Linked DNA regions of Homo sapiens. The protein of the gene in region 2 binds, or shares a complex with, the protein of the main gene of each other region. Each region holds a gene or a part of one and is shown on either strand. Other genes may lie near its edges. A codon is read from its position in the direction of its gene.

What was found.
Region 1: the proteins of RPA1 (region 2) and DNA2 are in contact, whole or in part, in a crystal structure (PDB 5EAY), measured with the Homo sapiens proteins. Residues at the interface, in NP_002936.1 of Homo sapiens: Asn29, Ile30, Arg31, Ile33, Arg41, Arg43, Leu44, Leu45, Ser54, Ser55, Met57, Asn85, Leu87, Lys88, Arg91, Val93, Ile95; in NP_001073918.2 of Homo sapiens: Glu6 (codon at 2,876), Leu7 (codon at 2,873), Glu8 (codon at 2,870), Leu10 (codon at 2,864), Met11 (codon at 2,861), Lys13 (codon at 2,855), Ser14 (codon at 2,852), Phe15 (codon at 2,849), Trp16 (codon at 2,846).

Annotation. Positions count from the first base shown.
Region 1 is NC_000010.11:68,468,974-68,475,877, forward strand, and holds the start of DNA2 (DNA replication ATP-dependent helicase/nuclease DNA2), read right to left. Parts: upstream 3,001-6,904; 5' UTR 2,913-3,000; coding exon of another isoform or gene 2,892-2,912; coding exon 2,818-2,891; intron 1,191-2,817; coding exon 1,008-1,190; intron 1-1,007. UniProt on the Homo sapiens protein: Key enzyme involved in DNA replication and DNA repair in nucleus and mitochondrion.
Region 2 is NC_000017.11:1,895,776-1,900,877, forward strand, and holds the end of RPA1 (replication protein A 70 kDa DNA-binding subunit), read left to right. Parts: intron 1-1,295; coding exon 1,296-1,400; 3' UTR 1,401-4,307; downstream 4,308-5,102. UniProt on the Homo sapiens protein: As part of the heterotrimeric replication protein A complex (RPA/RP-A), binds and stabilizes single-stranded DNA intermediates that form during DNA replication or upon DNA stress.

The DNA.
Region 1 (6,904 bases), on a different chromosome or scaffold from region 2:
CAGGAAGCGGAGGTTGCAGTGAGCCGCGATCACGCCATTGCACTCTAGCCTGGGCGACAGAGCAAGACTCCGTCTCCAAAAACCACAACAACAAAAAACAAATTAATTCACGGCTTAGACGAAGAGTCAAAGTTAGACCTCTAGCTTTTCTGCATCTACACTCCACCCCTCACATACCACACTTTGGGTAGAGAAATCTAAGGCCTAAGAATGTCCATATGTTTTAATTAATTTTGCTTTTAGTTAAAACTAACATGTGTTTAAACTGCAATCTTAGAATGTACTGGGAAGGCCGGGCGCGGTGGCTCACGCCTGTAATCCCACCACTTTGGGAGGCCGAGGTGGGCGGATCACGAGGTCAGGGGATTCGAGACCATCCTGGCTAACATGGTGAAACCCTGTCTCTACTAAAAATACAAAAAAAAAAAAAAAAAAAAGAATGTACTGGGAAATAGGAAGTAGTCATTAATAAGGTCCTTTGTACGTGATTTTCTTTTCTTTTTTTTGAGATGAAGTTTCGCTCTTGTTGCCTAGGCTGGAGTGCAATGGCATGATCTCAGCTCACCACAACCTCCACCTCCCAGGTTCAAGCAATTCTCCTGCCTCAGCCTCCAGAGTACCTGGGATTACAGGCAAGTGCCACCATACCCAGCTAATTTTTTTTTATTTTTAGTAGAGACTGGGTTTCTCCATGTTGGTCAGGCTGGTCTCAAACTCCTGACCTGAGGTGATCCGCCTGCCTTGGCCTCCCAAAGTGCTGGGATTACAGGTGTGAGCCACCATGCCTGGCCCACGTGATTTTCAAATGACAACAAAAGTCAATTTTTGGAATATGAGACTTGAGATACAGGAGTAATAGATACAATTTTCATGCAGAATTAGGCTAAGATCAAACCTACTCCCTTTTAAACAATTAAATTATAGTAACATTCACAGAAGCCATTTGATGAGTTTTACGACAGTACCCTTAAGATTCAAATCGGTGCTCAAAGTCACATAAAAATTACCAGTCATTCCTAAGGATGCATAGTTCTTTATTTTCTAGTGACTGTGAAGCAGTGATGACCAGGCGCTTTTCACAGTTTCCCTCTTTGTTCTGTACAGTATTGACTGCCAACACCAGGTACCGGTTATCCATTCCTGTGCTCAGAACTGTTCTTGGAAAGGAAGCTACCACTTTCTTCTGAAATCTAAAGCACACACATACAAAACTATTTTAGCACAACCATGAAATAAGAAGCCATCCAATATGTTTTATCTACAAACCAATCTTCCAGTTTTCTAGGTTTCTTTCTTCTGAAAAGCTTATTGCAATGACATTTAGACAAAATAGGTAAAATTAAGAGAGCAAAGACACAGAAGAATTCCTATTATAAAAACTTCCCAGAAGTAATGCCATTTCAAACATGCTCATGATATGAGATTTTCCATTTTAATTTCTGTAAAGCGTTCTGTGGGACACTCATTACAATGAGGATTAAGAATAAACTGGAAGCCAGGCATGATGGCGCACACCTGTAGTCCCAGCTACTCAAGAGGCTGAGGTGGAAGGACTGCTTGAGCCCAGGAGTTTGAGGCTGCAGTGAGATACGATCATGCTACTGCACCCCTTCCTGAGCGACAGAAAAAGACCCCGGTTCTGGCGGAGAAAAAAGAAAGGAAAGTATAAATTGGACAACATTAAACAAGAAATTTCTACCACTGGTGCAAGCCTTCCCAAAGTACAAGTAAAAGGAGATGTTTTGGACACGATCCTTTTTGTAAATATGAGACTTATGTTACGGAAAAGGGTATTGTCCGTGGTTCACTGAAAGTCCTATCATGAGCCACAGAATTGTACTTAGAAATAATTTAGTCCAACCTGCTAAAGTAATGCCGGAAATCTTTCGATAAAATCTCACTGGACAGAAAGCAGGCTTAATACCTATCGATTTAGCTCAATCCTTTACAGAGTAATTCAGAACTTTATTACTTATATTTATAGTGGGTAAGTCAATTTGTCAATACTTTCATCCATCGGTCCAAGCTGTCTAAAATTATGCAAAATAATAATCTCTCAAGAAAACAGCCCTTCTCCTATTAAGTACCTCTTAAGTCTTCCCCGTTTGACTGAGGCATCAGTGAGGGACCAAAGGAGGGTCCAAAGTCATTACCTCTCCAGTGATAACACCAAACGCCTTTCACATTACACTGCAAGTTATCTTTTGTTACCTGACCGTAGGTTCTATTATTTTGCAAACGCTTTATTCCTGTAGTCCACCTAACCTCAGGCCATGAATTTCGCAAGATTGGCTATGATGCCTTAAAGATGTTTCTCAAAAGGTATTGCTGATCAAAAGCCCAAACGCAAAAGTCCCTCAACGCTAATTAGCATTATTGCTATAATATTGAAAGTAATTCCACATTATGACCGTGGTTAACTTCCTCTGATCATTTATATACACCATGCTGAGGGTGCAGAGATCCCCCAAGGATAAGTTAATCCAACTAAACATCGAGAAAAGCCTACGGCGGTTGCAATTTCCTATTATAAAAACATTCCAGTGGCCGAAACTCCTCAACTTAGGGAGAGAGGTGAAATCAAGGGAAACAATGAACTGCTCGGCGAGGGAGAGTCCAGGCTCTGGCTGAATGTGGCCCCAAAGAACACCTTGGGAGGCAGGCCCCGACTCCGGAGGCTCGTCGGGTGCCCAGGGAGCTGCACCGGGTCCCTGGGCCCCGGGCCCGGTCAGTCTGAGGCGGTGCGGACGCAGCCTCTCCCGCTCCTTCTTTCAAATCTCCCGCTTTGTTCCCACACCCTCCCCCCTCTCCGCTCACAGCTCCGCCGGCAGCTCCGCCTCCTCCCAAAAACTCTTCTCCATCAGCAGCTCCAGTTCGTTCAGCTGCTCCATCCTGGACGCGGGGATCGCAAACTGTAGACAGAAAAGACAGCGGAACCGGGGGTAACACAGAAAGCTTAGAAAAGGGAAAAAGGCGCGAGCCTGCGCACCTCGCGCGCATGCGCCAACCCGCAGATGTCCCAAATGACCTGCGCCAGGCCGCCCCTCCCGCGCCGGCGCGTTCCACGTGGGGCCCCTCACCTGAGCAGCAGGGCTCTGTCCCCTGCCTTTGCTCCCTTGCTTAGGACTGGGAATACAGGGAGTCTTCATATCTGAAGCAGACTAAACGCTCCTGCCTTCTCTCTTGACACTCCAACCCGTGTCCGAAACCTCCCGGGTTCACACCATTCTCCTGCTTCAGCCTCCCAAGTAGCTGGGACTACAGGCGCCCAGCTTAGTTTGAACACAACCTTTACACGCTTAGTTTGAACACAACCACATTTGTAGTTGCCCAAAACCAGGCGCCCCTGGTTAGCCTTCAGAATTGTGCACTCCCTGGGAAACAGCCTCTCCCCTTTTTTTCAGAAAACTTATTGAGAAAATAGAAACTGTCGGATAGGAACTCCTTGATCATGCCACGGCTAAATCTACAAAACTTCTGGCCAGGCATGGAGGCTCACGCCTGTAATCCCAGCACTTCGGAAGGCTGAGGCGGGAGGATCACGAGGTCAGCAGTTGAGACCAGCCTGGCCAACATGGTGAAACGCCATCTCTACTAAAAATACAAAAATTAGCCGGGCGTGGTGGCATGCGTCTGTAATCCCAGCTACTCGGGAGGAGGCTGAGGTAGAATAAATTGAACACGGGAGGTGGAGATTGCAGATCCTGCAACGGCACTCCAGCCTGGGTAGAGCGAGACTCCGTCTCCAAAAAAAAAAATTCTACAAAACTTCTAATATCTGCACCATTCTTCATAACCTCTTTCCACCTTTTTTCAATAGCAGACAAAGTGTTCTTCTGGTTAAAGGGCAATCGCTCCACTTGCACTTGGCATCCCAGGGCTTCAAGCATTCTCAAGGGCATCGCTTCTTCAATTATTCTCTTGTATCATCAGCCTCGCCCTCACTATTGGATTGAGCCTCTAATATGGCCTGGTGTCTCCCATTTTTAAAAGATGTTTCCTTGCTGGGCACAGTGGTGTGCACCGATTTTTGATATTTATATACTTCTCTCATCTGGAGGCACTGACAAGAACATCCAGAGCCATGTTAAATATCAGTGGTATAACTGTTATCCTGATTTTTGTTATTCATTTTTTAAATAGATAAAATGCGCCGGGTGCCCGGTGGCTCAGGCCTGTAATCCCAACACCTTGGGAGGCCGAGGCGGGTGAATCACTTGAGGTCAGGAGGTCAAGACCAGCCTGGCCAACATGGTGAAACCCAGTCTCTACTAAAAATATAAAAATTAGCCGGGTGTGGTGGTGCACTCCTGTAATCTCAGCTACTCAGAAGACCGAGGCAGGAGAATCACTTGAGCCTGGAAGGCAGAGGTTGCAGTGAGCTGAGATCACACCACTGTACTCCAGCCTAGGTGAAAGAGTGACTCAGTCTAAAAGAAAAAAAAAATTGGCAAAAAGTTAATATATTTATCATGTACATGGGCTTTCAAATATGTACACACTGGAATGGGAGTTATTCTATTAGTATTTGTCCCTGATATCAACAGCTTTATGACCTACCTTTGCAAGTGATATAACATCACGGTAGTCACAGGCCCACTCAGCCAGATTCAAGGGAAGGGGAACACAGTTCCTACCTCTTGATGGGATGAGTGTCAACGACACATAAGAAAAGCATATGGGGCCTGGTGGCTCACGCCTGTAATCTCATCACTTTGGGAGGCTGAGGCGGAAGGATCATCTGAGGTTAGGAGTTTGAGACCAGCCTGGCCAACATGGCAAAACCCCATCTCTACTAAAAATACAAAAATTAGCCAGACATGGTGGCGCATGCCTGTGATCTCAGCTACTTGGGAGGCTGAGACAGGAGAATCGCTTGGACCTGGGAGGCAGGGGTTACAGTGAGCAAGATTGTGCCACCGCACTCCAGCCTGGGCAACAGCGAGAATCCATCTAAAAAAAAAAATAAAACCATATGAATTGGGATGTGTTCTGGTCATTGTTGGAAAGTATAAAGGTATACTCTGCCAAAATGTCCTTTATTAGATTGAGGAAGACCCCTTTGTTCTAAATATGATTCATTTTGATAACGAATAAATGCTGGATTTTGTCAAGCAGTTATTGCATCTATAGAAGGACTGTATGGTTTTTCTCCTTTATTCTGTTATTATGAGAAGCTTTACCATTGATTTCACAATGTTAAAAAAAACTTTGCATTCCTAGGATAAACCCAAATTGGTCATGACATAATAAACGTTTTATGTATTACTGGATTTGATTTGCTCTGTTGTTAAGAATTTTTCCATCTGTTGGTTTTTTGGTTGTTTTGTTTCTTGAGACAGGAACTTGCTCTGTCACCCAGGCTGTAGTGCTGTGGCACAATGACAGCTCACTGCAGCCTCGATCTGCCAGGCTCAAGTGATTCTCCCCTATCAGCCTCTCAAGTAGCTGAGACTACAGGAGTGTGCCATCACACCCAGCTAATTTATTTTTTTATTTTTAGTAGACACAAGCTCTTGCTGTGTTGCCCAAGCTGGTCTTGAACTCCTAAGCTCAAGCAATCCTCTCAACTCAGCCTCCCAAAGTGCTGGGATTATGGGTGTGAACCACCAAACCCAGCCCATCTAAGTTCTTGAAGGATACTGATTTGTAATTTTCTGTTTTATAACAGCATTGTGGGGTTTGGGTATCAGGGTTATACTGGCATCATAAAATGAGTTGGGAAGTGCTCTCTTCTAATTTCTAGAAGTTTCTGAGATTATTCCTTAGCTATTTAGTACACTTCACTACCTAGCCCTGGGGTTTTCTTTGTGGAAAGGTTTTTTTTTTTTTTTTTTGAGACGGAGTCTCGCTCTGTCACCCAGGCTGGAGTGCAGTGGCGTGATCTCGGCTCACTGCACACTCCACCTCCCGGGTTCACACCATTCTCCTGCTTCAGCCTCCCAAGTAGCTGGGACTACAGGCACCCACCACCACACCCGGGTAATCTTTTGTATTTTTAGTAGAGATGGGGTTTCACCGTGTTAGCCAGGATGGTCTCGATCTCCTGACCTTGTGATCCGCCCGCCTCGACCTCCCAAAGTGCTGGGATTACAGGCATGAGCCACCGTGCTTGGCCACTGCCGTATCTTTTTAAATGAAAGTACTTGTGTTTTTTTTGTTTTTTTTCAAAGGATATCTGGGTCATCTATGATGTTACTGTTACCATCTAAGGGTTTTTTTGTTTGTTTTTGAGACAGAGTCTCTGTCACCCAGGCTGGAGTGCAGTGGCATGATCTTGGCTCACCACAACCTCCACCTCCTAGGTTCAAGCAATTCTCCTGCCTCAGCCTTTCAAGTAGCTGGGATTACAGGCATGTGCCACCACGCCCAGCTAATTTTGTATTTTTAGTAGAGACGAGGTTTCTCCATGTTGGTCAGGGTAGTCTCGAACTCCCAACCTCAGGTGATCCACCCGCCTCAGCCTCCCAAAGTGTTGGGATTGCAGGCGTGAGCCACCACGCCCGGCCCTCAATTTCTTAATTTTTTGAGACAGGGTCTCACTCTGTCACCCAGACTGGAATGCAGTACTGCAATAACAACTCACTGTAGCCTTGACCTCCCTAGACTCAGTTGATCCTCCTACCTCAGCCTCCCAAGTAGCTGAGACTATAGGTGCACATCACTATGTCCAGGTATATTTTTAAAAGCAGACACAGGGTCTCACTATGTTGTTTGGGCTGGTCTCAAAATCCTGGGCTCAAGTGATCCTCCCATTTTGGCCTCCCAAAGTGCTGGGATTACAGGCATGAACCACTACGCCTGGCCTCACTTTCTTTAATTGGCTACACAGATTTTCTGTTTCATCTATGTCAGTCTTGGTTGAATTTTTCAAGGTATTTTTCCATTTCATATAAATTGTCAA
Region 2 (5,102 bases):
GGGTTCAAGTGATTCTCCTGCCTTAGCCCCTCGAGTAGCTGGGATTACAGGCGCCCGCCACCATGCCCGGCTAATTTTTGTATTTTTAGTAGAGACGGAGTTTTCACCATGTTGGCCAGGCTGGTCTCGAACTCCTGACCTCAGATGATCCACCCGCCTCAGCCTCCCAAAGTGCCAGGATTACAGGCATGAGCCACCGCGCCCAGCTTAGTTATAGTTATAATCAAACAGTATTGAGCATGGTCTGCCAGGTAACTGTTCTACATCCTTTACGTGGAACATCTCACTTGAGCCTAGTAACCCTATATGTAGAAACTGTGGTTACCCTATTTTGCCACTGAAGGAATTACATACAGAGAGACACGGGCATTCAGAGAACAAGTCACTTGCCTAAGTTGTATGCTAGCAAGTGGTCGAGCTAACGTCCAACCCAGGCAGCCTGACTTCAGAGCTTTGCTTTTGATCATGCTTACGAGTATCACGGGATTTAGTACCGACCAAGCACACAGCAGTGTGACAGCCCCGAGCTCGCCTGTGCAGCCTTCCTGGGTATCACTCCGTTCTGCCCGGAAAGGCACCATTCAGGCCGTGAGTGTAAACGTACGAGTGGGCAGGGGGAGTGGTAGAAACGCCCCTGCTGATTGCAGGGTTTACTCACGTATTTACCTTAACGCCCGTTCTTCTGCGACTACTATAAACATTAAATGAGATAGGGGATCAGATGTCACCGTGAAACAATGTCAGGGAGTGGGGTGGGGCTGGGGGGGATTTTTGGGGCCATTCAGCCCCATCGTGTCTGGACAGGGAAGGTGAAGTGAAGAGAGGCTGCCTCCCCAGAGCTGAGACAGGACAGACTCGGTCCTCTCCCTCTGCTGCAGGTGCTCTTCCTTTCACCACTCAGCTTTTCTTGAAATGAAAGTTTGAAAGTTTAGCTTTCAGAACTAGCTGTGTGGCTTTGTGCAAGTCACATGTCCTCTCTGGGCTGTATCCCCTGCAGTAGGGAGAATAAATGAAACTAGAGAAACCCTCTAAAGTCCATCTCACTAGGATTCTAGGCTTCTGGGTGTTTGGGAGCTTGGGTAAAGAATCAGAAGGGCCTGTGCTGGAGAAAGGACCTGTTCACTCGCCCAGCCCCAGACATTCAGGAGGAGGCTGTCACTCACTGGAATGACTGAACTCTGAACCCGTGCGTCTGTTCCCTCCCGCTGGGCTCACTGAAACCACTGAAGCAAAAGGGGTTTCACTGCTCCACACCACACTTTCACTGCTCACAAACTACTTCTCCCTTTTTGAAGGACGAGTCTCGAATTAAGGCCACTGTGATGGACGTGAAGCCCGTGGACTACAGAGAGTATGGCCGAAGGCTGGTCATGAGCATCAGGAGAAGTGCATTGATGTGAGAGGAGCAGTGCCAATCGGGCAGAAGTTTGCAAATAGGCAGAATGGAATCGATTTCCTCCCACCTCCGTGTGACGATCCCATGTTAGCTACACAGTGCAGAGGCTCTTGATGGTGGACTAAGCAATTTCCCCCCTCGTGCGCATCTCAGAACCCATCGGTAGGCAAAGGAAAATACGCTCAGGTGGTTGTGGTGTAGACTGTGTCAGGCCTACGGAGTCAGCCAGTGGCTAGCGCAAGACCAGTCACTCCCTCTGCCTTCAGGCTTCTGTCAATTTCATTATCATCAAGCAGGAATTATGTCGTAAGTCACTGACCCTAACTGCAGACCATGAAGTAAATTATGTAACTAGGTTTTTGCTTCTCCAGTGGTGACCACCCCCCCCCATCCCCGCTCACAACTTGGGTTCTTCTCAGCGGGGCGAGCTGAGAAGCGGTCATGAGCACCTGGGGATTTTAGTAAGTGTGTCTTCCTAGAATTCGAAGGCTCTCTCTTTCTAGAGGTGCTACATAGTTGGTAATGCTTGGAATGGCAATAGGGTAGAATGATTAATCAAAGGCATATCTTCTATATCTGAAGAGTATCCTTCCTTCAGGGTTTAATAGACTGAGTCAGATGGGTCTGATATTAATCAAAATTGTCTCTTCTGAGGACCGCTGATAAGCATTGACTTGCCGTCCCCTAAGGAAATCCGAGCGGCTACAAAGCGTTTCTTTACTTCTCACTTCAATTAATGCTGCGCTTCGCTTGGTGAGTGCGTACTTTTTCTACCTGTACACATTCCTGCATTCATGTATTTTGTTTTTTTTGACTAAAGCTATGTTACATGGAAAGGATTTTGAAGCCTTTTGTTTCCCTTGCTTTGTTTTAATAAACAGTATATTCTTTGGTTGTGAATCCTACTTTCTTTGAATGCAAAGAGTTCCTATAACTGGAAAGCAATTAATTAGCCTTCATAATAAATGTTCACTTGGGGGGGATGTTAACTCATTATAAACCCGAAGATTAGTCCAAGGCATGGAGATCCTTCTTCCTAGTGTTTGCAGCCCTGAAATGCATCTTTCAAAGCATGAAAACACTAAAAACAAAAAGCCATTTTGCCTGAGGATGCTGATGATCTGGCACTTGGGATTTTATTGATGTTTACGCAGCAGTCTAACACCAACCACGCTTTGAAATGTGTACAGACAGTGAGCTGGTAAGAAAACAGTAATTATGCTAGTGGGCCTTTCAGTCAGCAAAAGCATGCTCGCTCTGTGTGTTCCTAATCATATTAATTATCTATCCGGTGGCTGCAACACACCGCCTGCCATTGGCCGCACATCTCGCCGTCGTACCCCGGCAGTGCGGCGGTCACTCTGCAGCCAGAGGACCTGCTGTTCATCACTGCACATGCCGCCTGCGGAGGCTTTTGGATATGGGGAGTGATGGTGTCCTGTCTGTCTCCCCCCTCGGTGTCTGCCGTTGACATAGGGGCCAGCCAGCCCTAGACGGGATGACTTCCGTTCCTGAGGACAGACACAGAGGGACTCCTGCTCAGCCTCACTAATTGTTTAGACACATTCCTTCCTACCCTTCTCTAGTCTCAGGAGATGGTAACTGGGTCGCATTTCAGTCTCTGACTGAGGCCTCAGCCATTTTTACGGAAGTTCTTTTCTGTCTGACCTTGCTTATAAAGCATCGACGAGAAAATTACAGTCTTCAACCCTCTTCTGGATTGACAAATTGTGGCTGGGAAGTGGCGATCTAGCTTTCAGCCCAGTAACCAGTCTTTCATGCCTACTACTCCCAGCATTCCCTCCTCTCCCCACGTGTCTGTCCACACAGTGAAGAGGCCTGACCAGCCGTGGTACCAGGACAGGACGTGTCCAGGGAACGCTGACACCTGTCCTCGCGCCTTCTCAGTGGCCAGCGTGATGAAACCAGCACGTCTCCGTGGATGTGATTGGGAACCCAGGGGCAGTGCCAGGGGGAGGGCTCCCTCGAGGAGGCTGTTTCTAACAGATTTCCCCACTCAAAGATCAGATCACCAGCAGAGGAGCATCAGAAACTGGCTCCACTGTTGGGCTTTTCAGAGATTTTGGTCCCTGCGGGTTGCCTAAATAGATTCTGGCCCACAGTTTACCTCGAAAGGCTGTTGATGTTGTTCTGTTTCTCCTCTTTCACTTAGAGATCAATGTTGATTTTGCGTACACCATGACATCAGCGTTAGGCAATTAGGAGAAAAAAATCTAATCATTTCGCCTTTATTTCAAGTGGTTCTTGAATTCCCTCCAGTCTCATTGTGAAAGGGGCAGGGAAAAAAATAAAAGGGTAATAATCTGATTTCTGTCCATATTTCCAGTGTTTTATGCTTTCCATTAAAACCTTGCTAATCTCTCGCGTGCTGTTCCTTTTTTGAACTGCAGGGTCAAAAATGTTCCCCTCCCCCACTTCTGTTTCCTGAGTGGGCTGTCTTCAAAAAGTATAAATACTATTGATCGTGGTATTTAATACACTAATGAAACCCATGGTTATTGACTACATAATTAATATACTGTCCAAAAGTGAAGTTTGGCCGCCCAGTATGTAAAGGTTTATATTGACTCATGTTTCTTTGGCAATATGCCGCCCAAGGTTTTATTTATAGAGGATGAAACAGGTTGTTTGGTCTCCTTTTCTTCTTTTCACCTGTTAGAAGGCCACTATTCCCCTAGTAAACTGATTGTTTCCTTGTCTCAAAGGGAAGATTCCCCCCACTCCCCGGCCACCTTTTATGTGGTTTGTTAACTCTTAGTCTTATATCCACTCCGCTGGTAGAGTTCTGGCTTTTATAAACACCTTTGGAAGTCATCGGTTCCTCAAAAAGAGAGCATAGATGTTTAATTTTCACTTATTCAAAAAAACTGGTATTTTTGTTATTAAGACATTAAGTAAATGTTTAAGAAAAAAAAGGATAATTTGGACTATTGACTTTCTTATGCAAGTAATCATATTTGTTTGTTTGTTTGTTTATTTATTTTGAGACGGAGTCTTGCTCTGTCACCCAGGCTGGAGTGCAGTGGCACGATCTCAGCTCACTGCAACCTCCGCCTCCCAGGTTCAAGCGATTCTGCCTCAGCCTCCTGAGTAGCTGGGACTACAGGCATGTGCCACCATGCCTGGCTAATTTTCTGTATTTTTAGTAGAGACGGGGTTTCACCGTGTTAGCCAGGATGGTCTCGAACTCCTGACCTTGTGATCCACCTGCCTCGGCCTCCCAAAGTGCTGGGATTACAGGTGTGAGCCACCGCGCCCGGCCTCCATGTTTATTTTAGGAAAATAATCTACAGTTAAGAAAAACAAAATTGGCCTGGCACAGTGGCTCATGCCTATAATCCCAACACTTTGGGAGGCTGAGGCGGGCAAATCGCTTGAGCCAAGGAGTTCGAGACCAGCCTGGGTAACATAAGGAGACCCCCGTCCCTACAAAAAAATAAAAATTAGCTGGGCGTGGTGGCACACACCTGTAGTCCCAGCTACCTGGGAGGCTGAGGTGGGAGAATCACCTGAGCCGTGGGAGGTCAAGGCTGCAGTGAGCCATGATTGCACCACTGCACCCCAGCCTGGGCGACAGAGCGAGACCCTATCTCAAAAAAAGGGGGAGAAAGGGTGGGTGCGGTGGCTCTCCCTTGTAATCCCAGCACTTTGGGAGGCCAAGGCAGGTGGATCACCTGAGGTTAGG